Homo sapiens: one gene and its partners. The protein of the gene in region 2 interacts with the protein of the main gene of each other region in a pairwise test. Each region holds a gene or a part of one and is shown on either strand. Other genes may lie near its edges.

Evidence for each region.
Region 1: the proteins of CEP57L1 (region 2) and KLC4 interact in binary tests that used the Homo sapiens proteins (3 or more experiments, as listed by UniProt).
Region 3: the proteins of CEP57L1 (region 2) and SNAPC3 interact in binary tests that used the Homo sapiens proteins (3 or more experiments, as listed by UniProt).
Region 4: the proteins of CEP57L1 (region 2) and YES1 interact in binary tests that used the Homo sapiens proteins (3 or more experiments, as listed by UniProt).

The regions. Positions count from the first base shown.
Region 1 is NC_000006.12:43,061,699-43,070,035, forward strand, and holds part of KLC4 (kinesin light chain 4), read left to right. Parts: intron 1-1,218; coding exon 1,219-1,449; intron 1,450-3,921; coding exon 3,922-4,003; intron 4,004-4,607; coding exon 4,608-4,827; intron 4,828-5,297; coding exon 5,298-5,385; coding exon of another isoform or gene 5,386-5,454; exon of another isoform or gene 5,455-5,699; intron 5,700-8,337.
Region 2 is NC_000006.12:109,139,636-109,147,972, forward strand, and holds part of CEP57L1 (centrosomal protein CEP57L1), read left to right. Parts: intron 1-785; exon of another isoform or gene 786-1,040; intron 1,041-5,583; 5' UTR 5,584-5,586; coding exon 5,587-5,746; intron 5,747-7,122; coding exon 7,123-7,302; intron 7,303-8,337. UniProt on the Homo sapiens protein: Centrosomal protein which may be required for microtubule attachment to centrosomes.
Region 3 is NC_000009.12:15,425,258-15,433,594, reverse strand, and holds part of SNAPC3 (snRNA-activating protein complex subunit 3), read right to left. Parts: intron 44-8,337; coding exon 1-43.
Region 4 is NC_000018.10:720,099-725,590, forward strand, and holds the end of YES1 (tyrosine-protein kinase Yes), read right to left. Parts: intron 4,535-5,492; coding exon 4,326-4,534; 3' UTR 1,490-4,325; downstream 1-1,489. UniProt on the Homo sapiens protein: Non-receptor protein tyrosine kinase that is involved in the regulation of cell growth and survival, apoptosis, cell-cell adhesion, cytoskeleton remodeling, and differentiation.

The DNA of each region.
Region 1 (8,337 bases), about 66 Mb from region 2:
TTCATTCATTAAATATGTATTAAGTCCCTACTGTGTGCCAGAATGCTTTTGGGCACTGAAGAGATACATCATTGAACAAAACTGTAAAAATCTTTGCCATCTTGGAGGTTACCTTCTAGCTTGGGAAGACAGACAATACATAAATAAATAATGATTCGGTATGCCAGAGTGATAGTTGCTAAGCATAAAAGGATCAAAATAAAGCAGGGAAGGAAACTAGGGACTGTGGGGAGAGGGTATAATTTTAGATAGGGTGGTCAGAAAAGGCCACCCTTTTTTGAAAAGGTGACATTTTTGGCAAAGACGTGAAGTTGAGGGGAATGAGTCATGCCATAAACAGGGGAAGGGCATCCTAAGCACAGAGAGCAGCAAGTGCAGAGGCTCTGAATGGAAGTCTGCCTGGTGAGGTCAGTGAACAGCAAGGGGCCAGTATGGCTGCAGTAGAGTGAATGAGGAGAAGCAAGGTAGAAAATTAAGTCTGAGGGGTAATGGGGTTGGAGGGGAGGGAGATGGATCAAGTGGAACTTGTAGGCCACCCCGAGGACTTTGATTTTGCCCTTTCTTTGAGACGGAGTCTCGCAGTGTTGCCCAGGCTGGATGTAGTGGCACAATCCTGGCTCTCTGCAACCTCTGCCTGCCAGGTTCAAGCGATTCTCCTGCCTCAGCCTCCCGAGTAGCTGGGACTACAGGCGCATGCCACCACGCCCGGCTAATTTTTTGTATTTTTAGTAGAGATGGGGTTTCACCATGTTGGCCAGGCTGGTCTTGAATTCCCGACCTCTTGATCCACCCGCCTTGGCCTCCCAAAGTGCTGGGATTATAGGCGTGAGCCACTGTGCCTGGCCCTGATTTTACTTTGAGCGAGATGGAAACTATTGGAATGTTTTTAGAAGAGGAGTGATGTGGTCTAACTTGGCATCATCAGGTTGTTGGGTTACAAATAGACAATAGGGGAACAAGGGCAGAAACGAGGCCAGTGAGGAAGTTATTGTAATAATTTGGGTAGGAATTGATAGTGGCTTGGTCCAGGGTGACAGCAGTGGAGGTAGTGGGAAATTGGATTCAGGGTATGTTTTGAAGGTAGCACCACTGCTACACCCCCACCTTCTGGCTCCTCTGTGCCCCTGCCAGTCTTGCCACGTCCCAGTAGGCTCCCCTTCCACCTGTTCCTGAATACTCCCACCCAGAATCTGGAGCTCAGGGGATGTGCCCACCTAGGTGATGCTGGCTCTAGCCAGCCACCTGAGCACAGTGGAGTCGGAGAAACAGAAGCTGCGGGCTCAGGTGCGGCGGCTATGCCAGGAGAACCAGTGGCTGCGGGATGAGCTGGCTGGCACCCAGCAGCGGCTACAGCGCAGTGAACAGGCTGTGGCTCAGCTGGAGGAGGAAAAGAAGCACCTGGAGTTCCTGGGGCAGCTGCGGCAGTATGATGAGGATGGACATACCTCGGTGAGTGTGCACAGGCGAGACTGGCTGAGGGGTGGGCAGCCGGGAGTTACCACAGACATGGGGGCAATTGCCCCATCATCCTCAGGGTCCATCAGCTCTACCCAACCTGCTCTCACCTGAAAGAATTCCTTTTTCAGCCCTGACACCAACTCCAGGTGACAGCAAGGGGAAAAACAATATTCAGGTAATTCAGTCAACATTTAATGAGATGCCTACTGTGTACCAGGCATTGTGCACTGCACTGGTGAATGGGGCACACAGAGTTCCTGCTCTCACAATTACAAGCTTGTGAGGGAGATAGATAAGCACCTGGACAATTCCAATCCAGAATTCTACGTGGTACAATTAGGGAAAGCATAACCCAGTTGAGCATGACCCTCCTAAAATTTGCTTTCAAAATGTGTGAATTTTTTTTTTTTTTTTGAGACGGAGTTTCACACTTGTTGCCTAGGCTGGAGTGCAATGGTGCAATCTCAGGTCACAGCAACCTCCGCCTCCCGGGTTCAAGCAATTCTCCTGCCTCAGCCTCTTGAGTAGCTAGGATTGCAGGCACCTGCCACCACGCCTGGCTAATTTTTGTATTTTTACTAGAGACGGGGTTTCACCATGTTGGCCAGGCTGGTTTTGAACTCCTGACCTCAGGTGGTCTGCCCGCCTGGGCCTCCCAAAGTGCTGGGATTACAGGTGTGAGCTACCATGCCCGGTCCAAAATGTGTGAAATTTAACCCTCGCTCAACAGAATGCAGTGATGCCATCTCAGCTCACTGCAGCCTCCGCCTCTGGCTTTCAAACAATTCTTGGGCCTCAGCCACCCAAGTAGCTGGGATTACAGGTGTCTGCCACCACACCCGGCTAATGTTTGTATTTTTAGTAGAGATGGAGCTTTGCCATGTTGACCAGGCTGGTCTCAAACTCCTAGCCTCAAGTGATCTGCCTGCCCTCGGCCTCCCAAAATGCTGGGATTACAGGCGTGAGCCACCACGCCTGGCTGAGAGTGTGTGTTTTCTTGAGATGTATCTGTAGGGAACAAGTCTTATCCAGGAGAACATATATGTGACAAAATACAAAGCAGCAAGTGCTCAGTGCTGGATGAGTGGTTCAGTCAGTGTGGGAAGAATTTCACAGAGAAATGTCTCTGAGGGCTGGAATGGTCTAAGAAGAATTCATAGAGGAAGCAGGGAGCCTGGGCAACATAGTGAGACCCTGTCTCCACAAAAAATTAAAAAATTAGCCTGATGTGGTCGTGTGCACCTATAGCCTCAGCTACTCTGGAGGCTGAGGTGGGAGGATCGCTTGAGCCCAGGAGGTGGAAGCTGCAGTGAGCTGTGATTATGCCACTGCATTCTAGCCTGGGCTGTTGCCAGACTAGAGACTCTGTCTCAAAAAACAAACAAAAAAATAGAGGAAGCAGGATACAGGGATGGGTAGGATATAGGTTGGATTTCCCATTTGAGTGGGTTAGGAGTTGAGATGGATTTTGAAAGTTCATGATGAGGAAGAGGGAGCAGCTTTTTAGACTGGAGTGCAGGGTGTCATTGATAAGGCTTACAGCCTGGAAAAGCTGGTCTGTCCCAGGGAAAGTGAGTAGATGAATTGCATAGGACACATTGGTGAAGCTGGGTAGGAGGGTTGGTGTTTGGATGAGGCTGCAGTTCCTGATGGGGAAAAGCAGATTTTCCTAGTGCGGAATAGGTTAGACAGTGAGGGAGGGTTACGTAGTAAGTCCAGAATGAGCTGTGCAGATGATGGGCACCAGGCTGAGCTAGACACTTTCTGGGTACATGTCAATAAGATCGGCCACACTCCCTTCCCTCAGGAGAGACAGGACAGACATACAATCAACGTAAACACACAGAGATCAGCATAGGGCCATAATTACAAGAGTTAAGGCAAGATTGAGGGTGGTTAGAAAGGAAACTTTTTTTTTTCTTTTTTTTTTGTTTTGAGACAGAGTTTCGCTCTTGTTGCCCAGGCTGGAGTGCAATGGCATGATCTCGGCTCACCGCAACCTCTGCCTCCCAGGTTCAAGCGATTCTCCTGCCTCAGCCTCATGAGTAGCTGGGATTATAGGCATGCGCCACCACGCCCGGCTAATTTTGTATTTCTAGTAGAGATGGGGTTTCTCCACGTTGGTCAGGATGGTCTTGAACTCCTGACCTCAGGTGATCTGCCCACCTCGGCCTCCCAAAGTGCTGGGATTACAGGCGTTAGCCACCACACCCGGCCAGGAAGGAAACTTTCTGTATGAGAAGGAGGGGAAGTCTTGAGATTTTGTCCAAAGCATCTCTGGCTGTTACAAACAAGAGGCCTGAGCTTGGCTGGGCCACTTGCTAGCCTTTCCAGGGGCAGAGACAGGAACAACAGTCTTCTCCTAGGTCCCATCTGTCTGTGATTTCATGGCTTAGAGGGGTCACTGAGAAGGCTACTAGGTAGGGATATCTTGGCCCTTATATGTTGCTTCTTCCCTTCCAGGAGGAGAAAGAAGGCGATGCCACCAAGGATTCCCTGGATGACCTCTTTCCTAATGAGGAGGAAGAGGACCCCAGCAATGGCTGTGAGTCTGCCTCTGGAATGGGAGGGTGAAAAGGGGCAGCAGGAGGCTGGCCCTAGCTGTGGCCCACCCTGTACACAGGACAGTCACCATCTAGAAATAGGTTCTCCACTTTCTCTGGAGACAGGGCAGGGGCTGGGCTAGTACTTCGATTTCCTCAGCCTCCCCATTGAACGAACATGTATTAAGCACTGAATATGTGCCAGGTACTGTGCTAGGCACTAGGAGTACTGAGATGGAAATGGCATAGGTCTTACCAGTAAGGAGTTCACAGTCTAGTGGGAGAATAAACCTGAGACAGGGAGACCATGAGCCCCCCAAGGGAAAGAACCAGGTCTTTCTTACCTTTGTACTCCTGGAACATCCCTTGGTTCATACTTATTAAATAAATGTTTGTTGAATGCATGAATTACTGGGTGAACAACTGAGGTTGTGATGGGCATAGGTCAAGGGAGTGGATAAAAGAATAGCACTTGAGGCAGGTCTAATATTGAGAGTCCAGGTTGGGGTGGGCACAAGTATGGAACAAGACATGCAATGGGGAGTGGAAGGGCAGACAGCAAAGGGGAGAGGAAGAGTCCTTTGTTTATGTTCTGTGATGGTTTAGTGTCCCGTGGTCAAGGTGCTACAGCAGCTCAGCAGGGTGGATATGAGATCCCAGCAAGGTTGCGGACGTTGCACAACCTGGTGATCCAGTACGCAGCCCAAGGTCGCTATGAGGTGGCCGTGCCACTCTGTAAGCAGGCACTAGAGGACCTGGAGCGCACATCAGGCCGTGGCCACCCTGATGTCGCCACCATGCTCAACATCCTTGCTTTGGTGTATCGGTGAGGACTTCCCTCCTCCAGTGCCCAGATCTTCCCCCACATTCCCACCTTGGTCCTCCTTTGGCTTTCATTTTTCCTCTTTACAGGGTACCTCTCCTCCCTGTTGGGCCTCCCAGATACACCCCAACAGGGTGCTTCTTTATGTGCCAGAACTCTCACTTTTCCCATACCTAAGCATTTGCTCATCCCTTGGGATCCTTGTTCCTCTAATCTCTCTTCTGGGGAGTGCTCTCTCCCTCTCTTCCCCCTGCCCCCTTGCTTCTTATAACTTGTGGCCTCCTCTTGGGATGGCAGTGCCCTGCATTCTGGTATGAGTATGTCAGTGAAGCCCCCTTACTGTCCACGCCAGGCTTCCTGTCTCCTCATGGAGGTCTCCAATCCTTAAATGTACTCAGTCCTTCCAAAGGGAAGGAGGGAAGGAGAAGGCTTGCGGGTTCAGGGTAACTCCTGTCACTTTTGTCTTCTTCCAGTGACCAGAATAAGTATAAGGAAGCTGCCCACCTGCTGAATGATGCCCTTAGCATCCGGGAGAGCACCTTGGGACCTGACCATCCTGCTGTCAGTATTCCTTGCCCTCCCCACCCCACGCCCCGCACCCCCCACCATTGCTGTTTTGGCCTCTCTTAGCTCATCCATCTGCTGCCCTCAGTCCACTCACTAAGGGTGCTGAGGAAGGAGGCATAAGAAGTCCTTTCTTCCAGGCACTGTCCAGTGATCCTAATGATTCTCAATTCTCTGAGACTCAGTGACTCCTTTTTATAACAAATATTTTGCTTGAATTTAATTAATAGATAAGTCATAGGTAAATCCACATATGATTTCTACAAAACTTAATATGCTACTCTAATAAATATAAAAGAAAAACAAGAAAAGTAATTTGTAAGGACAATATATACAATGTAATATAATAAGGTAAAAATACAAAACAACAGTAGTTGTATTGAGTACAACTTTGTTAAAAGAAATAGCAAAGTGGCCTGGGCACAGTGGCTCACGAGTGTAATCCCAGCACTAATCCCAGCACTTTGGGAGGCTGAGGAGGGTGGATCACGAGGTCAGGAGATCGAGACCATCCTGGCTAACATGGTGAAACCCCATCTCTACTAAAAAAAATACAAAAAATGCCGGGCGTGGTGGCGGGCGCCTGTAGTCCTAGCTACTCGGGAGGCTAAGGCAGGAGAATGGCGTGAACCCGGGAGGCGGAGCTTGCAGTGAGCTGAGATCGTGCCATTGCACTCCAGCCAGGGTGACAGAGCGAGACTCCGTCTCAAAAAAAAAAAAAAAAAATGAAAATATAGGTGGACAGGCCGGGCGCGGTGGCTCACGCCTGTAATCCCAGCACTTTGGGAGGCCGAGGCGGGCGGATCACGAGGTCAGGAGATCGAGACCATCCTGGCTAAAACGGTGAAACCCCGTCTCTACTAAAAATACAAAAAATTAGCCGGGCGTAGTGGCGGGCGCCTGTAGTCCCAGCTGCTTGGGAGGCTGAGGCAGGAGAATGGCGTGAACCCGGGAGGCGGAGCTTGCAGTGAGCCGAGATCCCGCCACTGCACTCCAGCCTGGGCGACAGAGCGAGACTCCGTCTCAAAAAAAAAAAAAAAAAAAAAAAAAAAAGAAAATATAGGTGGACACTTTATTAAAGTACAGTATTATAAGAAATCACAAGGGTCGGGCACAGTGGCTCATGCCTGTAATCCCAGCACTTTGGGAGGCCAAGGTGGGCAAATCACGAGGTCAGGAGTTCAAGACCATCCTGGCCAACATGGTGAAACCCCGTCTCTACTAAAAATACAAAAATTAGCCGGGCGTGGTGGGGGGCACTTGTAATCCCAGCTACTCAGGAGGCTGAGGCAGGAGAATCACTCGAAACCAGAAGGTGGAGGTTGCAGTGAGGTGAGATCGCGCCTCTACACTCCAGCCTGGGCAGCAAGAGCAAAACTCTGTCTCAAAAAAAAAGAAAATAAATGACAGACCAGATTTATTTGTGTATAAGAGGAAGAGACTGGGCTTGGTGGCTCACGCCTGTAATCCCACCACTTTGGGAGGCCAAGGCAGGTCGATCACCTGAGGTCAGGAGTTTGAGACCATCCTGGCCAACATGGTAAAACCCCGTCTCTACTAAAAAAAAAATATAAAATTAGCCAGGCATGGTGGCATATGCCTGTAATCCCAACTATTTGGAGACTGAGGCAGGAGAATCATTTGAATCCGGGGGTTGGTGGTTGCAGCGAGCCGAGATCGCACCACTGCACTCCAGCCTGGGCAACAGAGCAAGACTCTGTCTCAACAAAATAAGAAGCGGCCCAGCGCTGTGGCTCACTCCTGTAATTTCAGCACTTTGGGAGGCCGAGGTGGTCGGATCACCTGAGGTCAGGAGTTTGAGACCAGCCTGACCAACAAGGTGAAACCCTGTCTCTACTAATAATACAAAAATTAGCCAGTTGTGGTGGCATGCACCTGTAGTCCCAGGTACTCGGGAGGCTGAGACAGGAGAATTGCTTGAACCCAGGAGGCTGAGGTTGCAGTGAGCCAAGATCGCACCATTGCACTTCAACCTGGGTGATGGGGTGAGACTTCATCTTAAAATAAATAAATAAATAAATAAATATAAATAAAAGGAAAGAGAGAAACAACCTTAAGTAGAGATATCACGCCAAGGCAAATGATAGAGTTGTCAATGTACAGAAAATGAAAAATGAAAAGTTTGTTTGTTTTGTTTTGTTTTGTTTTGTTTTTTGAGATGGAGTTTCGCAGTGTCACCCAGCCTATAGTGCAGTGGTACAATCTGGGTTCACTGTAATCTCTGCCTCCCAGGCTCAAGTGATCCTCCTGCCTCAGCCTCCCAAGTAGCTGGGATTACAGGTACGTGCTACCACGCCAGGCTAATTTTTGTATTTTTAGTAGAGATGGGTTTTCACCATGTTGGTCAGGCTGGTCTTGAACTCCTGACCTCAAGTGATCCACCTACCTCAGCCTTCCAAACTGCTGGGATTACAGGTGTGAGCCACCACACCCAGCTGAAAAGTTATTTATTTTTTGTTGAGATAGAGTTTCACTCTTGTTGCCAGGCTAGAGTGCAACATGGCACGATCTTGGCTCACTACAACCTCCACCTCCCGGGTTCAAGCAATTCTCCTGCCTCAGCCTCCCGAGTAGCTGGGATTACAGACATGCCACTACGCCTGGCTAATTTTGTACTTTTAGTAGAGACGGGGTTTCTCCATGTTGGTCAGGCTGGTCTCGAACTCCTGACCTCAGGTGATCCGCCCACCTCGGCCTCCCAAAGTGCTGGGATTACAGGCGTGAGCCACTGCGTCCAGCCAAAAAGCTATTTTTGAATGTGATCTGTGTGAAAATAATTCCCTATGGTATGACATATGATAGGCAGGGATGATGTATCTCAGAAATCATACTCCTGTCTTGATATCCCATCAAATATCAATGTTTACATTTAGCGTTTGGATGTCTGGCAGGACATTAAAAAATTGGCAGAGCTGTCCCACACATGCA
Region 2 (8,337 bases):
CCACCACGCTCAGCCAATTTTTTTGTATTTTTAGTAGAGAAGGTGTTTCACCATGTTGGCCAGGCTGGTCTTGAACTTGTGACCTCAAATGATCTGCCCACCTTGGCCTCCCAAAGTGCTGGGATTACAGACGTGAGCCACCATGCCCAGCCTGCCTGGCTAATTTTTGTATATTTAAGAGAGAAGGGGTTTCACGATGTTGGCCAGGCTGGTCTCGAACTCTTGACCTCAAATGATCCACCTTCCTCACCCTCCCAAAGTGCTGGGATTATAGGCATGAACCACCATGCCCAGGCTGGAATTTTCCATTAATATTTTCTGAAAAATGTTTTTCTGAAAGTCAGAAAGATAGTAGTAAGTGGCAGATTCAGGATTTGAATTGAGGTCCAGCTGCAAAGGCTTTACTTTTGAATCTGGATATAACTGCTTTTCATTGATTATTACTAAGATTTATTTATTTATGTATTTATTTATTGAGATGGAGTCTCACTCTGTCACCCAGGCTGGAGTGCAGTGACTTGATCTCGGCTCACTGCAACCTCCGCCTTCCGGGTTCAAGCGATTCTCCTCCCTCAGCCTCCTGAGTAGCTGGGATTACAAGCACTTGCCACTTGTCATTTTTCTATTATGACGTTAGTAGTTTTCTTTTGACTTACAAAAGCCCTTTACATATTAACATTAACCCTTTGTTCTTCATTGCACTTAATTACTTCTGTTTGTCTTTTGTCATTCAATTTTGTTTATAATTTTTATATGTTGTATTAATTTTTTTTTTTTTTTTTTAGACAGAGTCTTTCTCTGTCACCCAGGCTGGAGTACAGTGGCACGATCTCGGCTCCCTGCAACGTCCGCCTCCCGAGTTCAAGTGATTCTCCTGCCTCAGCCACCCGAGTAGCTGGGTCTACAGGTGTGCGCCACCATGCCTGGCTAATTTTTGTATTTTTAAGAGAGACGGGGTTTCACCATGCTGGCCAGGCTGGTCTCGAACTCCTGACCTCGTGATCCGCCTGCCTCAGCCCCTCAAAGTGCTAGGATTAGAGGTGAGCCACCGCGCCCGGCCTTATATGTTGTATTAATTTTAACAGAGCTTTTGTATCTTTTCCTTTATTTTTCTGTTACTTTTAAACATAGAATATCTTACCTATTCTAAGGTTATTTAATATTCACTGATTTCTTAAAATAATTTTTAGAGTTTTTTATTTATTTATTTATTTAGATGGATTCTCGCTCTGTTGCCCAGGCTGGAGTGCAGCGGTGCGATCTCGGCTCACTGCAAGCTCCGCCTCCCGGGTTGACGCCATTCTCCTGCCTCAGCCTCCTGAGTAGCTGGGACTACGGGCGCCCACCACCACACCCGGCTAATTTTTTGTGTTTTTAGTAGAGATGAGGTTTCACCATGTTGGCCAAGATGGTCTCGATCTCCTGACCTCGTAATCCGCCCGCCTCGGCCTCCCAAAGTGCTGGGATTACAGACATGAGCCACCGCGCCCAGCTGCGTTTTCTTTATTTGACTCTGTAGCTATCTGAAATTTGTATTGATGTATGGGGCAAGATGAAGCCTTAAATGGATTTTTTCCCCATTTTTTTCTTTTGTTTTTGAGACACAGTCTCACATTGTTGCCTGTGCTAGTGTGTAGTGGCGCAATCTCGGCTCACTGCAGCCTCCACCTCCCAGGTTCAAGTGATTCTTCTGCCTCAGCCTCCCAAGTAGCTAGGATTACAGGCATCCACCACCACGCCTGGCTAATTTTTTGTATTTTTAGTAGTGACAGGGTTTCACTGTTGGCCAGGTTGGTCTCGAACTCCTGACCTCATGATCCGCCCACCTCTCCCTCCCAAAGTGTTTCCCCAATTTTTCTAACATCATTTATTGGATGATCAACAAATGAATAGCTGAATCCCATTGAAGTATTTATGTTACATTCGTGTATTTACTAGTTTCTATTGACCAGTTTTTATTGTCACATCTTAACATTTTGGTGATTTTATATTATAAATAATACATTATATAATTATTATGGGATATCTATAAGTAAGTTCCACCACCACAAATTATCTTATTCAGTTATAATAAGATAATAATAAGATATAATAAGTTATAGTACTTCCTAAAGTACTATACATTAAAAAATAAAAGAGTTAGTCCAGCCTTACTGTGTTTGCTCTTAAGGTAAGTTAGCATAGATGCATACATAAAGAAAAAAACAGATCAAAGAAACTGAGCTGTTGATCCTTCTTCAGTTTCTCTAAGGAAAAATCCAAACTTGGAAGAAGTAGCAGTTACAGCAAACAGAGATTCCTTTATTTCAAAAGTCTTCTATAGTATCTCTGACTGCCCCCTAATGTCGTCTCCCTAGCAGTCCTATGGAATAAGTGTTTTCCTCTATAAAAAGTAAAAATGCTTTGCAGTAAAGTGTTTGTGTCTAGAGCATTCTTTTTAGGGGGATAGTTTTTTTATGCAATGGGTTCTTAGTTGCAGCCAATTGGGGTATCTTAATTTTATAAACCATAAAAACAGTGAGTAATTTCCCTGGTTGTTCACAAGCTGTCAAGAATGGTTTCAGGAAAACCAACCCAAATGCCCATCAATGATAGACTAGATAAAGAAAATGTGGTACATATATTCCATGGAATACTATGCAGCCATAAAAAGGAATGAGATCATGTCCTTGGCAGAGACATGGATGGAGCTGGAAGCCATCATCCTTGGCAACCTAACACAGGAACAGAAAACCAAACACTGCATGTTCTCACTCATAAGTGGGAGTTGAACATTGAGAACACCTGGACACAGAGAGGGGAACAACATACACCAGGGCCTGTGGGTGGTAAGGGGAGGGAACTTAGAGGACGAGTCAATAGGTGCAGCAAACTAATATGGCACATGTATACCTATGTAACAAACCTGCACGTTCTGCACATGTATTCCATTTTTTGTTTGTTTGTTGTTAGAATAAATAAAGAAAAAATAAATAAAAATTTTAAGAAAAAAAAAAAAGGTACAACTTGAGTTTCTCAGGCTTGATACAAATGAGGTTCACATTTTATAGCCTTTTGCCCTTACTTGAAGACACCTATAAAATGTTCCATAAGAATTCCTGAGGTCTTTTCAGTTACCAACAGCTAGCTAAGTCTGGTATCAGAAATACCGGAATCCTAGAGATTGTGATTTAGGTACTTCTCTGTATTTTCAGAAATTTTTCCCTAGAAATATTTCTCATATGTGCCCATGAATGTATCCCTTCCATCTGTGCTCTCTCTGTTTCTCTGTTGCTCTCTCGCTTTCTCACTCTTGTTCACTGTCTCTCTTGCTCTCTCTCTCTCTCTCTCTCTCTCTCTCTCTCTCTCTCTCTCTCTCTCTCTCTCTCTCACTGAATACTACTAACTGATGCACCAGAAAGGGGCCAAAACTGTGTTAGCAATCTGACTCCCCCTCCATTGTCATGTAACATCTTACACAAAGCAGGGAAGCTAATGCCTTGATATTTTATAGAGATATTGGTGAAACATTTCTCAGTTTTTATTTAAACTCTCTCTCTTTTTAGAACCCACATATGAGTCCATGGCACTAGGTCAGAGATAAATTAGAATGACCACCATCATAGTCTACTCAGAATCACTCCTCCTTTCCTTAGTCATTTAAGGCTTTTATTTTGGATCAAGCCTTTTGTAGTTACTTCACCTTCTTTCAGAGTGAGTTTTTCTCCCAGGATGCTTCAGTGCTTTATATAAATAAGCTTCCAGTAGGCTTATGCACTTGTTTACAACACAGGACCAGATTATAAAGGTTAAGCTGAGATCCCATTACAATGAGAATCTCTGAGCTCTGTGTCACAACATAACTTGTCCTCTCATCTCTTTACTGTTTTCTTTCTTTTTCTTCATCTTGTTTTTATCCTATCAGTGGATTATTCTGCTTGTGCCCACTTTAATATGTGTCTACACATTTAATTTAAATAAACTGTAGTCTACTTTTTAACTTACTGGCAATCTTCTAACTAGTCATTATTTCATATACATTAAAAACCTCAAATTTGGACCAGTTTTTTAACTGGTACAAAATCCGGTTTGTGAAATAATATTATACTTAGGTCAGAGGAAGCAGAGACCTCCCAAGGACTTCAGTGTGTAGTGACAAATAGCAAAATTTCATTCTTTATGTCATTGGAGAAACCCACCCGGAGCTGAAAACTAAGTCAGATTTCTTGAGTAGCTCCAGTATTCTTGGGATAGCTTTAACAACTTACCTCTCTCTGAAGATGTACAACCATCTTCAGGATTTACGTACTTTAGGGCCTTACCTCCACTTTATAGTGAGCCAGCTGTGACTAATGTTGATCTCTTGTTTTTTGAGGGAACAACAACTTAGATAGATGCGGTATCCCATGGGGAGCAGGCAGTGTCTGAGATAGCTGGTACTAATCACAATAGCAAAATATGGTTACCTTGCAAGAACAAAAAGCATCAAGTATCTTAGCAAACCTTAGGCTTTATAGCCTCTAATTTAGACCAATCAGAATGTTCTAGGAGATTGCCAATCATGGCAATGGCTAAAGTAGAAAATTCTAGGAAGTGAAGTGTGCCTTCTGCCCTTCCAGAAAATACTATCCTGGGAAGTGCCTGCCTTTGCCTTGTGAATTGAGGAGGTGGTGAAATCATGGAAAATGTACAACTCTCAAAAATCAAAATAGGCTAATGTTATAGTGTAATTCTTGGATTTCCATTTTGAAGCAAGCTTTCTTGCTTAAAATTCTTCCAGTGAGTTATTTTTTTGTAAGCAGTTATCACCTTATGTGATTATGAATTAATTTAATTAACATTGACTGGAATCTATTAAAAAATAGAATACATTTCTAAAATATTTAAATTGCAGAAAGGAAAATAAAATTATTTGGAAATTTTAGACCAAAAATTACCTGCTTAAATGGTTAAAAGGGCTCTCTTACCAAAACAAAAACAACAACAAAATAAAAACCAGACTAACAAAACTAAGTAGTCTAGATTCTTCAGATTTGGAAACTTTCTAATCTAGATGATTAAAATGCTAATACATTAAGCAGAGGTGTGTCTTATTCAAAGGTTAAATTCCGATATTTCATATATCCAAAATTACCCTTGAAAATCCCTTAGGAAGCCATACATTAGAATTCAACAATCAGTATTAGAGAATCAGTGTATATTGTTGGTTTGTGTTTAAAAGCTCAGTTATCTTTTAGAATATGTACTTTCTCTTTAAATCCTAGAGTCACACTGCTTATAGAGAAGTGCTCAGACTATGATAGGTATATGGGATTTATGGGTAACTGAGAAACCAGTAAATTCAAATCACTCATGTGATGCTTACTCCAGGGTATATGATTATTGAAAATCAGGCAGAATTGTCAGTACTGCTTACACAAGAAATAGTAACTTTTCTTTCTTTTATTGCCAAGCCTATTAGAGTTGAATTTATAATTAAGTTCATAAAGATACAACTCCACAGTATATGATTATGTTTTTAAAGTTTCACCTGAATTTTTGTATAATGCATTTACCCTTAAAATAGGAAAGCATGATACTATATCATTCCTTTATTCTCTACAGATAATGGATTCTGAATTAATGCATAGTATAGTAGGAAGCTATCATAAACCTCCAGAAAGAGTATTTGTTCCCTCATTCACCCAGAATGAACCATCTCAGAATTGCCATCCTGCAAACTTAGAAGTTACCTCTCCTAAGATACTTCATAGCCCAAATAGCCAAGGTAATGCTGATATAAAATTTGAAGAATGGTAAAAACATGCTATAAAAAACTTTTCATATTTATGTGGAATACAATATGATTGCATATTTAATCTTAACAAAACTCCTAACTTTGATTCTGTTGCTAAAAGTTTCTATGAACTTAGACAAATTACTTGACATTTTTTATTTTGGCTTCTTCAGCCATAAAATGAAGATTAATACAACCAGCTGGACACATATCACAGAGTTATCATAAAAACATCATTTGAAAACAGGAAAATACTCTTTGAAGAATAAAAGGTCAGATTTGGAATACTAAACTAGATGATTAGAATGTTAGTGAATTAAATGGAATTGCATCTTATTCAAGAATTAGATTCAGAAATTACATATATCCAAAATTATTCTTGAAAATATTTTAGGAAGCCAGTATATCAGAGTAACTACAAAATACTAGTATTTTAACGTTTAAAATAGAAATGTAGGAGGATCTTAAAATTGAATTAGGAAAACATTTTATTACTCCAGGCATATTTTAAGCTGTGCAAATTCTTTTCTGAGATGCTGATATCACCTACTTTTAAAATCTTCTATAATAATGGTTGCTGTTAATAAATAAACTAGTTTTGTGGAATAAACTATAAGAAATAATAATGCAAATCAATGTGCCAGCTACAGATATCATGTAAAGAGGAATAAATATAATTTATTTATCTCATTTATAAAAACAAAATGGTAATCTCTAGCAAGCATCTTTCTAATTTGATATAAACTATATGACAGTTAAAACTCTGAACTTATCTGAAGCATGAAGATATTAATATAGTTGAATATAAGTCACAGTAGTATAGAATACTATTATCTTTCAGGTCTGACATCAGGTAAACCATTAGGTTATAATTATCCTGGTTCTTAATACTGCATCATGGACAAAGAAACAGTAAATATGTGTGATTTGACTAAAACGGAATACCTCAAGAACTGAGAAAAAAAGCCTATAACTTTAAACCTAAATTGCCATGTTAATTAGTAGAAATTATATTTTAATGTTCTTATTCATATTTATACTCTTATGCTCCCCAGACTGTACATTGTCTTTAAGTCCTTTCATTTGTAAATATTTTATTAAATTAAAATTGTGGTTATTACCTTTCTCAGTCTTAGAAACCACTAAATACAATAATAGATATAGTGTTTTTACAAGATATATTAGAGAGAAAATGTGCGCCTCTTCAAAGTGTTAGTCATTATTTTTCATTTTTTGAAGAATATGCATTACTTGTACATTTTTCTGGCTCAGTAACAAAAATATACTGCTTATTTTTCTTATGTTACTTTGATTGTAAGTGTTCAGAAACTTTCACTTAAAATATCAACAAAATTTTTTTTCAACAGCTCTTATTTTAGCCTTAAAAACTCTTCAGGAAAAAATTCATCGTTTAGAGCTGGAGAGAACACAAGCTGAAGATAACCTGAACATTCTTTCCAGAGAAGCAGCACAGTATAAGAAGGCCTTAGAGAATGAAACAAATGAGAGAAATCTGGCACACCAGGAGCTGATAAAGCAGAAAAAAGGTAAGAAATGCAGTAGTTCTCAGAAACCGGGGGTTACTGGAGTTTACAGTTCAAAAATAATAAACCTAGTCTAAGCCGATGTACTCAGATATCTTTATTCTTATATATATTCAAACTTCATGACTTTGTTCTCAGACCTTTTGATATTTGTGAGAAAAAGATACAGTTTTGAACTTACCTCTATCATATCTTACTTATCATAATTCATAAATTCTAGAAATTAAAGGAAAAATTAAGATTTTAGACAAGTTGTGTTTAAAAATTAGAATATTTTCAGAATAGCCAACAAACTCCAATTTAACCCGTAATTGAATATTTATTTTTTATTTTATTTATTTGTATTTGCAGTTAACACTAAACTTTAGAATTTGAAATACAGAACAACACTAGTAATTAAACAATGTAAAACCAATAAAAATGAATACAAAAGAATTTTATTTAATGAGAGGAAAGCAAGGTTAATTAGAAGACATAGGCAAATGGGGGAGGCTTCTGTGGAAATTATGAAAAATTTTAGAAATTTAGAACATAAGTCTTTTAAGTAATTTCACTTCAAAACTTAAGACTTTCTTTTTCCTTTTTACACTACACTCATCCTCATAAACAAGGCTCAAGTTTGTGTTTCAACTTAGAAGTAGAATGAACAAATGGGGAGAAAAATATTTCTGAGGTAATTGGACAAAAGTAGAAGAAAGGGGTGAGGAAAGTAAAGAGTTAAAGGATTAGAAATAGGTTGCTTTCTGCTGTGGAATTAACTGTTCTGCCAGCAGTCAAGAACAGGGGAAAATGAGAGTGGTAGATGCATATACTTGAGTTTCCTGAAAGAGAAGAAATATATTGATAGGTAAGAAACTTTCAGCCTCTGTTTTTCCAGATGATGTTATTTCCATCAACAACCAGGATATTTATCATCCCACAAGTTACTGACATCCTCCTCTTTCAGAAGTGTGCCCTCTGAATTTTTAGGAGGAGACAATATTAAACCAGTTCTGTGTAATTAATGAGCTGTTTACAAATGTATTTTCATAACTCTGG
Region 3 (8,337 bases), on a different chromosome or scaffold from region 2:
TGTAATGGTTTCTTCCCGATGTTCCAAGAACCTTTTTCTAACCCTGTTGTAGATGTAAAAGAAAAAAAAAAATCAAAGTTCAACATTTGTTATTCGGGCTTCAAAAACATATTTAACATTCAAGTTTTTTTATTTTGAACTAATTTTAAGTAGCAAAAGCAGGAAAAAGTTCCCTTCTATCTCTTGTTCAGCTTCCCTTATGTCAACATCTTACTTGATCATGAGACAATTAAGAACAGGAAATAAATTCTTACACAATATTATTAGCTATACGCCTTTTTAAAATTTCACACAATTTTTAATTTACTCGTTTTTTTTTTTTTCTGTTCCAGATTCCTATCCAGGATCCCACATGGCATCTGTTATTTTTCCTTAGTCTCCTTGAGTTTGTTAAAATACTTCAGTCTCTCCTTATCTTTCACGATCTTGACAATTTCAAAGAGCTCTAATCAGTTATTTTATAGAATGTCCTTCAATTTGGGTTTGACCGCTAGTTCCTCATGATAGGAATAAATTTAGCATTTTGGTAAGAATACTACAATGATGCCCTTCTCATTATATCATATCAAGATGTTCATGATATTAATATGACATCTTACTAGTGATGTTTAGCTTGTTTCTGTCTGCCAGGTTCCTGCACCAGAAAGACACCTTATTTTCTATGAACTTGGTAAATATTTTGGGGGAGATACTTTGACACTATGCAAATCTTGTTTCTCCTCAAACTTCACCCATGAATTTTAGCATTCACTGATAGATTATGTCTGCAACATTTATTACTGTGCTGTATGCCTAATAGCAATTCTGTCTTTACTTTCTTCTACATTTATTCATTGGATCTTCTACATTTATTCATTGGAATTATATTTTGAGGAAGACCTGCCTCTTTCCTCCCATCTGTTTATTTCATCATTTCTATTAGTATGAACCTACAGATAATTGTTTTATTCTGGGGTTAAAATCTAATACTATCACTATTTTGTTGTTCAAATTGGTACAGCTTTATCATTAGGAGCTCCCGTTCTTTCAGCAAGTCCTCTCCTTTTTAAAATTATTTTTTATTTTTTTAATATTCCCTTACTTTCCGGCACCACAAGATGCTCAAGGCCCATCCTATATTTTTCTTGTCTCGTCCCCGGAATCAACCACTTGTAAGAGCCCTAGTTCCTTTACTGGAAAAAGGTGTTTAGAGACCAGTATCTGGGTTCTAGGCGTTCTCATTGTTACTGGAGTCACTGCTTCTAGGCCTCTCAGCTGAGATAGGCAGGAAATATATGTATGTATACTAACCTATACATGTATAAATATCTGTATTTCTGTATTTTACTGTCATACATTTAAAACTATGAGTTTATACTGATACTTCTGATCCCAAACTAAAACCACAGGATTCATTTTAGCCTTTAACATTTCCTTGTTTATAACGTCTTTCTCCACAAGTGAGAAATCCAGCTTTCACTGTTGGCAACCTATGATTTGTTCAATTCTAGTAAATACATAAAATAGTTACAGAATTGCTAACCTATACCCCTGTGAGAAACACTAAATTATAAACAGTTCTGTCTTCACCTTTACATTATATCAAGATACGCTTTTGGTAGCATTTTATTATTTAAAAATCGGAACAATATATTTAAGATTAGCACGGCCCCTGTGCATGGATGATATGCAAATTCATGAAGTGCTCAAAAAAAAAAAAAAAAAAAAAAAGACAGGCTTTAATACAGACTTTAGTTCTTTCTTCCCCACCCTTTTCAGTGGTGTTATATTACACATCCGTAATACAACTAGCCTTATTTTTTAGTTTTTGAATTCAGTTTTGGGTTCCCCCTACATCCTAGTTGGTTTTAATTGTCTGATTACATTTGGGGTGTGTGAAAAATATGTGACACATTACTATGATCCTAAGAGTCAAAAGTGTCACTCCCTCTTTGTTCCTACTAACCTGTTCCCATTCCCTCCCTTCTTTCCACCCCTTTCCCACCCACCCCTGCAGGCAATCAGTCTCTATAGTTTTGGTTTGTCCTTTCCATTTCCTTTGTTCAAATAAACAGATATTTGTGTATACTCTGTTATCTCCTGTATCAATCTGAGTTCAATTAGGAAGAAAAAAAGAACAGCAATTTGAACAAAGGTTAAGGATTCAATAACTTTAACAGAGGATTGGAATAATGAGGGATTGGCAAGGAAGCAGTAAAAGGGAACACTGAAGTATAGAATAATAGCAAACAGAAGGAGCACCCTACCCCTAGGGCTGAGAAAGAGCGCAGGGAAGTCCTTTTTTCTTCCTGGACAGAGATCCAGACGAGCTGGAGAAAGAAGTTGCTATGGTACTGCATCAGTGGAACTTGCTGGAAATCCACCCTCAAGGGCACTAGGAAAACCTGTTCAGGGGAGCTGTGGAGGGAAATGGGGTTGGCAGGAAAGCTGCTGGGCGCGGGGTGCTTCAGACTGCAGTGTATTGCAGGAGCTGGGCACTGGGGAAGCTGTGTGCACTGCAGGATCCTGCTGAGCCAGCACATCAGATCAGGAAGCAAAACCTTTGAGACTCCTGAGAAGTCTCTCCATTGCCCTTCACTGACAAAGCTTAAGGATGTGCTAGTTGGCAAAAGAAAAGTATTTAAAAGGCCAAGGTCCATTTTTACAGAGCAGGAAAAAGAGGTAAATTTGAAGATGAGAGCCAATAAACTACACCTGGCACACCTTTCTTACATGAAAGGTGGCATATACTTTGGGACTTTGCTTTTTTCACTTAATAGAATGTACTGGAAATTACTCTGAATTAATCCTTCCTCATCCTTTATTCTAGCTGCAAAATATTACCGTGTGGATTTCCCATAGCGTATTCAACACTCTCCTCTCCTACGTCTGTATATTTAAGGTATTTCAAATATTTTGCAATTACAAACAATACTGCAAGGAATAACAAGCAGACAGAAACAAGCTAAACATCACTAGTAAGTATTGAACACATGTATTTTCATATTGTTGGAGGGGTACCTTTGGTATAAATTACTAGAAATGGGATTGCTCGGACAAAAAGTATTATTTTCCTCATTAATTTCTGTTATCTTTATTATTTCCTTTCTAGTATTTTCTTTTCACTTACTTTGTTGTTCTTTTTTTGTTTTCTGAGCTGGAAATTTATTTTCTTTTTGTTTTTTTGACAGGGTCTTTTTCTGTTGCCCAGGCTGGAGTGGAGTGGTAAAATCACGGCTCACTTCAGCCTCAATCTCCTAGGCTCAAGTGATCCTTCCACCCTGGCTTCCTGAGTAGCTGGGAGCACAGGTGTGTGCCACCACAGCTGGCTAATTGTTTTTATTTTTTGTAGATACAGGTTCTCCCTATCTTGCCGAGGCTGTTCTCAAACTCGAGGGCTCAAGCAATCCTTCCATCTTGGCCTCCCCAAGTGTTGAGAGTACAGGCATGAGCCACTGCACGCAACCTGTTAGTAATATTCTATGTTATGAATGTCATTGATGTTTCCTTTGTGACCTAATACATAATCAATTTTTGTGAACATGTCATACAGTTCTCATTAGCAGGGAGCAAATTTTATGTATACGTACCTCCATAAGATATAAATTAAAAAGTGTCCTTTATCACATGTAATACTTTGGGGCTTGAATACTATTTGTCTGATATCAGCATCACTACTCCTGCTTGATTTTTGTTTCCATTTACTTGGTATACTTTGGTCTAACCCTTTATTTTTAGCTTTTCGGAATCATTTTATTTTAGATGTGTCTCTTGTCATCCCAAGATTTTTGTTTTACAAGCCAAATTGAAAATCCTTTTTTAATAGGTTGCTTAAGACTAATGTATTTGGTCTCAACTCTATCACAATATTTTCTAATTATTTGTATTTTGTTGTAATAGCTGTTTTTCATTATGAAATGCATACCCTTCTTTTCCATTTAATTTTTAGAAATTGAGGGGGAGTTGATATTTCTATTATTGTTCTACTGGTTACCTTTCTACTCACATTTTTTAAATCCTAGAGTTACCCATTTTCTTATTTAACACTTTACTATCTGGTGTGTCAGGTTTTTTTTCCTCTGCAGTAGTCTTTAAAACCCATCTATTGCCCACACATTATCCATTTTTCTCCTTCCATCATTTTAGTTGCAATACTGTACTTTGTTGCAATACCCAACGGTTACACAAATCTTCCACCCTCATCCTCTCTGTATTAGTCCTTTTGCTGAAAATTTTCCAGTCATCAATTGGTTGGATAAAGCTCATTCTCTTGTATATTCCTCAGAAATGGCCAGCAGGTACAGAAATTACCCAGGTTTTCGTTATGTCGAAAACTCTTTTTCTATAACCTTGACATTTGAGAACATTCAGTTAGATATAAAATCCTTCAATTCACACCTTCATTGAGCTTTAAAAAAAAACACTGCTCTATGTTGCCTTGCTTTGTATGTCAGTTTTTCAACATGTGATGCTTTTTGTAAGTTTGCCTTTGTAAGTTATATGTTCTTTTTGCACAGAAGACTTGATGATTTCATCTTTATCTCTGAAATCTAATAGTTGTACTAAAATATATCCCAAAAGTCAATAAGTCTGGGTTAATTTTTCCAGGTACCTAGGGAACCCTTTCTAGATTTAGTTTTTTTTTCAATTTCTGGAAACTTTTGCTGGATTATGTTTTTAAACATGAATTATGTTCCATTTCTTTTTCTTCTTCAGGGACTCTGATAATATGAATATTATGTCTTTGCCTATCTACCTACCATTCCCTACTTTCTCGGATTCATCTTACTTTTTTCTTTGTCATTTTCAATTCTCTTCGTTGTTTTTATGCCTTTCTTCATTGCCTCTTGCTTTCATTTCAGTCTATTTTCCCTTAGGTATCTTACAATTTATTCACTTATGAGGTAATTGTCTTTTTCTTCCATTTCTTCCCTTTGTTTCATCAACTCTTTTTTCATTTCTCCTTTAGTCATCATTTCCATTCTTATTAATAGTTTTAAAAATTCTAAGCCAAGGTAAACATTTTTATACCCTCAAATGCTTATTTGAGTATATTCAATTCTGTTTGGAGTACAGACTTATAGGCTTTCTCTTTTTTTTTTTTTTTGAGACAGAGTCTCGCTGTGTCGCCCAGGCTGGAGTGCAGTGGCGTGATCTCGGCTCACTGCAAGCTCCGCCTCCCAGGTTCACGCCATTCTCCTGCCTCAGCCTCCCAAGTAGCTGGGACTACAGGCGCCCGCCACCACGACCGGCTAGACTTAACAGGCTTTACCTGTTTCCGAGTGGAACAGGTAGTCTCCAAAGTTGATCTGTATAAACAGTTATTTCCTGATTATCTGCAACAAGCTCTCGTTAGATTTTATTTCCTCTTGCTCATTTTTGTAACATCTGGGGCACAGTGATAGTTTACAAGATTCCCAGTTTGATGGTGCTCTTTTCTGTCATTCTAGCCAACTTCAGATATATGAGAGCTGTTTGACAGTTTTTTTTTTTTTTTTTTTTTTGGAGACAGAGTTGCGCTGTGTCACCCAGGCTGGAGTGCAATGGCGCGATCTCAGCTCACTGCAACCTCCACCTCCCGGGTTCAAGTGATTCTCTTGCCTCAGCCTCCCGAGTAGCTGGGACTACAGGCGGGTGCCACCACGCCCAGCTAATGTTTGTATTTTTAGTAGAGGTGGGGTTTCACCATATTGGCCAAGCTGCTGTTGAACTCCTGACCTCAAGCACTCCACCCTGTTTAAGTTTTTTTAAAAAATCATTTGTGGTTGGTTTGGTGGAATAGGAGTTTTGAGTTCTCCAATTTCATGGTTCTTTTGTTTTTTGTTTTTGCAGGACTCTGTAAGTTCCTTTTGTTAACCTTTAAACAGTACATCCTGGACCTGTAAACAGTGCTTTCTTGGTCACAAAAGTGAGGGGGATGGGCAGAATAATCTAAAATTTCTATTGTATTAAAAGTAATGTTGCTGAAGGGCTGGGCGTCGTGGCTCACGCCTGTAATACCAGCCCTTTGGGGCAAGGCCGGCAGATCACTTGAGGTCAGGAGTTTGAGACTAGCCTGGTCAAAATGGTGAAACCCCATCTCTACTAAAAATATAAAAAATTAGCCAGGCATGGTGGCACACGCCAGTAATCCCAGCTACTTGGGAGGCTGAGGCAGAAGAATCACTTGAGCCCAGGAGGCAGAAGTTGCAGTGAGGAGAGATTGAGCCACTGCACTCTAACCTGGGCAACAGAGTGAGTGAGACTCTGTCTAAAAATAAATAAATAAACAAATAAATAAGTGATGTTGCTGAAGCTTTTGGAATGACAAGTAAGTTTTAGCAGCACCCATGTATTAACAATTATCTCTCCTATTCCTAGGAATTAAAACCAACTAAGTAGTCAAAAAAAATGTCAAAACTGCCAAAGCTATGTAGTTTGCTATAGATTAAGGGAGCAACATGTATCAAGGAAGAATCAATATCTACCAACTACCTTTGGTCCCTTATATGCATAAAACGAGCTCTTTCATTTGATGTGGGAAAGAAAAAGTACCAGAAATTTATTTTATGTCATAATAAAGAAATGATGTACTTATGTTTTATTTTTATAATATAATAATGTGAAATTATTGGTGAGGAAAAGGAAGGTTCAGAGAAAGATAAAGCATAGAGATACAAATTTAGGCTTTTGCCACAAGTCTAATTTTTTTTTGGCAGGACCATTAAGGTTAACAATGGTCATGTATTAAATACACTAGCTTCACAGTATATCAAAATAACCCCAGTTGAAGAATACCGTACTGATTTACATTAGATTATATATAATTCTACCCACAAATCCTGTTTGGAGGGACTAGAAGAAACCAAAGAGATCTAGTTGACCTAGTAGTGCAAAGTAGTCAAGGGAAATAATGTTTAAGCAGTCTTAAAATTACTATTTAACATGGCTTAACAAAATTACTATAAATCAATGAATACATTATTAACTATAGCAAAAAAGAGTCTGCTTTAATATGATTATCATCAACGTTCTTTTTTCAGTCTATCTCTAAAAATCACTTCCTGAGTCTTCTGAAAGTTTCATTTATTCCACTCATTCTACAAATATTTGTTGGCTCCCTACTATGCACCACAGTTCTAGGAATTGGTAATATAGCAGTGAGTGTGGCAGATGTAACTTAAGGAACTTTCAAGTGTAGCTAAGAAGACAGAAAATTAAACACGTATATTACAGATGTGATGAGCATTTCAATAGGGAAGCATAGGGTGCTACATGAGCATACAAGATGACCTAAATGGAGTCCGTAGTCCTTTAGCTAAGACTTGCAGGATGAGTAGAAGTCAACAAGGTCAGGAGATAAGCAAGAATGACTGTTCTGGGCAAAGGCCTGGAGTGAGAGAGCATATTCGAGGAACTGAAACACAGTGCAGTGTGGCTGGAACACTGCAGAGAGAAAGCTTAAAAAAAATCAGCAAGGTCGGGCCAGGTGCGGTGGCTCATATCTGTAATCCCAACACTTTGGGAGGCCGAGGTGGGTGGATCACGAGAGGTTGGCCAACATGGAGCCTGACCAACATGGAGAAACTCCGTCCCTACTAAAAATACAAAATTAAGCGTGGTGGCACATGCCTGTAATCCCAGCTACTTGGGAGGCTGAGGCAGGAGAATCACTTGAACCTAGGAGGCGGAGGTTGCCGTGAGCCGGGATCGCACCATTGCACTCAGGCCTGGGCAACAAGAGTGAAATTCCATCTCAAAAACAAAACAAAATGAAAACAGCAAGGTCCACTCCTTAGAGGCCTTTGTGAGCCACTACAGACTCAGGACTTCAGCCTAAGGGACATCAAAAGGTTTTAGGCAAGGGAGTGACAATCAGATGTGCATTTTAGACAAATACAACTAATCAATCAACAATAGTTACAGAGCACCAATTGGAGCAAGGCAGTATAGTAGGCTTGAGAACAATACACAGATGGGAGTTTGGACTCTCATTGAGCCTTCAAGGACTTTAGAAATGTTAAGAGTTTAAGGCAGTATAAATGCATCTGTTTCCTAAGGGAAAGATGGGTTGTGGTAATCTGGAAAGGAATCTTTGGGCTTTTAAAAAAGTGGTATGGGCAAGGTGTGGCGGCTCACGCATGTAATCCTAGCACTTTGGGAGAACGAGTTGGGCAGATCACATGAGGTCAGGAGTTGAAACCAGCCTGGCCAACATGGTGAAACCCGTCTCTACAAAAAATGCAAAAAAGTTAGGCAGCCGAGGGTGCAGGCACCGGTAATCCCAGCTACTCCGGAGGCTGAGGCAGGAGAATCGCTTGAACCCGGAGGCAGAAGTTGCAGTGAGCAGAGATCACGCCACTGCACTCCAGCCTGGGC
Region 4 (5,492 bases), on a different chromosome or scaffold from region 2:
GCTGTGTCCCCAGGCTGGAGTGCAGTGGCACGATCTTGGCTCACTACAAGCTCCGCCTCCCGGGTTCACATCATTCTCCTGCCTCAGCCTCCGTAGTAGCTGAGACAACAGGCGCCAGCCACCACGCCCAGCTAATTTTTTGTATTTTTAGTAGAGATGGGGTTTCACCATGTTAACCAGGATGGTCTTGATCTCCTGACCTCGTGATCCACCCGCCTCGGCCTCCCAAAGTGCTGGGATTACAGGCATGAGCCACCGTGCCCGGCCTAAAATGCTTTTTAAAAAGCACAACCTATAGAGCTGGGCGCAGTGGCTTATGCCTGTAATTCCAGCACTTTGGGAGGCTGAGGCAGGCGGATCACTTGAGCTCAGGAGTTCTGAGACCAGCCTAAGCAACATGGCAAAACCCTGTCTCTACAAAATATCAAAAGTTAGCCAGGCAAGGTGGCTCGTACCTGTACTCCCAGCTACTTGGGAGGCTGAGGTGGGAGGATTGCTTGAGCCTGGGAGGTCGAGGCTGCAGTGAGCCATGATGGTGCCACTGCACTTCAACCTGGGCAACAGAGCAAGATCCTGTCACACACACACAGAAGCATAAACTATAATATAGATAGATGAATATTAATCTTGGGGTGGATGAAGACTTCTAAACATAAAAAAGGAATGAACAGATTTGACAATCTACAAATGTACAACTTACATGTCAGAAATTATATGGAAAATTAAAAGGCAAACAGGAAACTAGAAAAACATTCTTAAATTGAGGAACTATTGCTATACTACAAAAATAAATGTTTACTAAATGAAGTGTTTTAGAAATCAGAGAAAAAGCTAATAATTTTGTAATTAACTTATTGAAAATAAATGCTTTTGAATGACCATTCAAAATTTAGTATTAGACAATTTTATTTTCATTATCCTATATAATAATTATAAAACACAGAGATAAGGCTCATTTTTTTTCTTTTTTAGAAAATTAAGCCCCTTAATTTATAATAAAACTGGTCATTCTATTTTATATTCTTCACATAGATTGTGAATAGCTACACTCAAATTACTTAGGTTTCTGCATTAACTGTATTTGCTGGTATAATTTTAAGAAGAAGAAAATACTTGTAAAAATAATGTCACTCACTTGACATAGAAAATTGACCACAGGCCGGGCGCGGTGGCTCACGCCTGTAATCCCAGCACTTTGGGAGGCCGAAGCGGACGGATCACGAGGTCAGGAGATCGAGACCATCCTGGCTAACATGGTGAAACCCCGTCTCTACTAAAAAATACAAAAAATTAGCCGGGCGTGGTAGCAGGCGCCTGTAGTCCCAGCTACTCGGGTGGCCGAGGCAGGAGAATGGCGTGACCCCGGGAGGCGGAGCTTGCAGTGAGCCAAGATCGCGCCACTGCACTCCAGCCTGGGCGACAGAGCGAGACTCCGTCTCAAAAAAAAAACAAAACAAAACAAAAAAAAAAGAAAATTGACCACAAAGAATGAGTTCAATAATGTTCTGAATTTAATAAAGGATTGATTAAATTCTGCTCAGTAGTTACAAGTAACTGAACATTTTTTTCTCAATGGAAGAATAAATTCAGAATATATCAGTTTTTAAAAAACGAATGAGAATATGAATAGCAACTAAAACGATTAATAGGTGCATTCAATGAGAACTTTTTATTTCAATTATCCACAAAACAATATTACAATACTTTATAAAAATATTAAGTTTAGGCTACCATTATTCATTTAAAAAAGTGTGCTAGAAGGCTGTTTTTGCCAACTTCCTTTTTTGGTAAGGGTTAACTTCCACATTAAGACACTGAAGACGAAAAGCTGTTGGAAAATATCTCCAAATTTACAAAGTTGTTTTTCTTGGCAATTTAAAAATACAGAACAATTTAAAATGAATACACATTAAGTTAGTGTTTTATCCCTACTATACAATTGTTATTATATAAGGAACTGCTCCATTCAGTTAAAACCTAATGAATACCATCAACTTTTCCTGCCTTACTTTCCTGATTAGATTTAGTACATAAACGTAATTTTGTCACCCTTTTGAATATGCTTAGAAAAATTACAATATCATAGTTCACATAAAGCCCTTAAAAAATCTCATGTCACAAGTTGTTGATAAGAGGAAATAATGACAGCACTCTTCTTAGGAAGACCCTCTTGGTAGAGAGTGTCAATACTAAGCAGGTTACGTAAACAGAAAAAACAACCACAATTTTTAGTACCAGAACCACTGCCAACTTGCATGAAGTCCATCTTCACATTTTAAAAATGGTTTGAATTTGAACATATATGCCATGGCACAGAATTTCGAATCTGATGATTAAAATCAGGTAAATAATGATAGTTAAGAATTATATCCTGAAAATAGAGGGGCCTAATATAAGGCTTAATTTAAAGTGTGACTATATGAGAGTATTTTAAAACATATACACCAGACCTTCATTTTATTCATCAATTTTTCCTTTGCTAGACACTCAAACCACTAATGCTGCTATTCAAATCTGTATTTTGAAATTACTGAGTTACTCTTAAAAATTAGTCTTATTTTGTATGTTTCACTTTTGCACTTTAGGGTAAAAACTGTCCCCTTTTCACCACCGTTAATATTCAGAATAAGTTTTCCTCCCCAAATCAACCATTTAATGTATTCTAAAAGGGAAAAAATGACCACCATTACATAGACTTTAGAAGTGAATGTAGGCTGGGCGCGGTGGCTCACGCCTGTAATCCCAGCACTTTGGGAGGCCGAGGCGGGCAGATCACAAGGTCAGGAGATCGAGACTATCCTGGCTAACACGGTGAAACTGCGTCTCTACTAAAAATACAAAAAACTAGCCAGGCGTGGTGGTGGGCACCTGTAGTCCCAGCTACTCGGGAGGCTGAGGCAGGAGAATGGTGTGAACCTGGGAGGCAGAGCTTGCAGTGAGCCGAGATCGCGCCACTGCACTCCAGCCTGGGCGACAGAGCGAGACTCCGTCTCAAAAAAGAAAACAAAAAAAAGTGAATGTAGATTCAAACATGATTTGAAAACTGGAGTTCTAAAAATGTTTTACATAAAAACCATATCCCACTGCAATGAATGTGAAGCCATAACTTCATTATTTTGAACAAATACCCATTTAGTGTGTAAGAAAAATTAGTTTTATAGTTATACTTTATAACTCTTCAAAGTCTCAGAATATAGCTAAGTGAGGAGCTCTGAGTGCCAGCAAAGCCATTCTGTCACTCCATGACATCAACATTAAACATTACCTTCCATCCCTCTAACTTGTAAAACTTTCACTTTCTTTTCTCGTATTTCTTTTAAATACATTTTCCTCTCTGTTCATCTATATTCACCATGAGCAAAAGTGCATTCAAGTCCCTGATCTGGTCATATTTTCTATTTGTGGCACCCATCCCCATAAGGACATATAAGCAATACTCACAGTACGAAGTCTAGTTTTTAAAAAGGGCTTTTAAAATGCTGGGTCTTACTTTGCATGCTATCTAAAGATCAAAACATTTCCCCTTTGATTGGACAGTAGTTTCAATTATATATTGCCTTAAAAAATCAATGCAACCTCATACAAGATTAACTCACTTTCTAGTTACCTTCATTATTCTAAGTCAAACTCTTCAGAAAAGGACTGAAGTGAAAAAGTTCTTATTCTTTCAGTTCCATGAACATGAATATTAATGTACTGCATTATACTTTCAAATTCCACTTCTGTGGTCTAACATTTAATCAAGTTTGAGATCCTGTTTATATTCCTTTTGAAAAACCTGGCCCATGTCCATGCAAAAGAAAGCATATATTAAGATTGCATACTGACTGTTTAACTTAGAAAAAACTTTTGAGAATAATAAATGCAAGAAACTTTAAAAAACTGGAATGGAATTATTTGGTCCCATGATATTCCTTAATTTTAGATTTTATTATGGTATAGCTTTTTATCTCTCAAGTTTTATCTGTAACAATAAATAATTTTCTTTGAGCAATTCTGACTTTGGGGAAAAAAAGAAAGGAAATGATTTATAAATAAGCAGGAGCCTCACTGTCCTTCATTACCATGCTGTCACCCACACTGTCATCAGTATCTTAGCTCTATTTTGTTTGGACCCTGAAATACGCTGATAAATTCATCATTGGTACATTAGAGTTTAATACTTGGGGAAAAAAAAGTGGTTTTGTGCAACCATATCTGGGATTCCAGTTTACCATTAAAAACATGCAGAGTAAAGAAGATTTTCTTCTTTTGATTCCTGTAGAAAATCTACACAAGTTCTTTATATTTTGGCAGATTTGTGCATATAAAATAGGCTACTTGAATTATAAATTTTCTCCTGGCTGGTACTGTGGCTCTGTAGCAGTGAAGTAGTCTTCCAAGAAGGACTGAATATATTCAAATGTTGGTCTTTCATCAGGGTCCTTCTTCCAACACAGATTCATCAATTCATGGAGGGATTCTGGACAGCCCTGAGGGCACGGCATCCTGTATCCTCGCTCCACTTGTTCTAATACTTCACGGTTCACCATACCTAATACACAAGATTAAAACATTAAAGAACAATGGTCCTAACTACCACTAGGAAAACATAACAAACCCCCTAGCCACTAACTCATTCAAAGTATATTATTTAGTGAAACAATTCTTTTAACAAAGCAACAAAATAAATTTTAAACATGAGAATATCAAGAAGAGCTTAGAAAATGCTAATCTATGTTTTAACATGTCTAATTTTTCATTCCATCTTATATCTTATTTTTAATACTAATGTCTTCAAAAGCCAACCCCATTTGATTAATAAGAATTTAGGGTGCTACTATGAGGTACTGGTACTTTCTAATATTAACATTTAACAATGACCAAACTTGGGTTACTGAGGAATGGTGGCAAGATCCTGTCTGAAAGAACTTTAAAACAGGAATTCAGAAGAAAGTTCTAGTCTTGGTTTTGCCAAATATACCAACTACATAACTTTATATTGAATTACTTCTGTGAAAGTTTCCTTATCTAATATTACCTGTTTGACTTTCTTCAAGATATTACACATAGTTCCTTTCTTGTATTCCTTTGTAATCCCCCCTTCCTCAACCCCCTGATCAGCAGTTCACCCCATCTTATCACAGGACAGCAAAATGCCTCCTTTTCCAAATTCTTCCTGATAGTGTCTCACTAAGCCAGCAACCTCACCTCACGTCCTATCTCCCGCATCACCTTCCTTCCCTGCCTGCAAGTCAGGCCATCCCTTGTATCTCTTGGAAACTTTATCAACCAATCAGGAATGATATTTAAAATAGTCTATGATTCTCTAAAGAAAATGTAATGGGGTTAAATCATTACTATTTAGATTTTTAGTTATTTTTTTGAGGAATAAGTGATTTCTCAAAATACATTTTTTAAACTATTAAAAAAAACTCTACATGACATTACTTTGAAACTCAATACTTAAAAGGAAGTTTTCTGAGCTTTTCATCTAACTAGGTACTGTCATC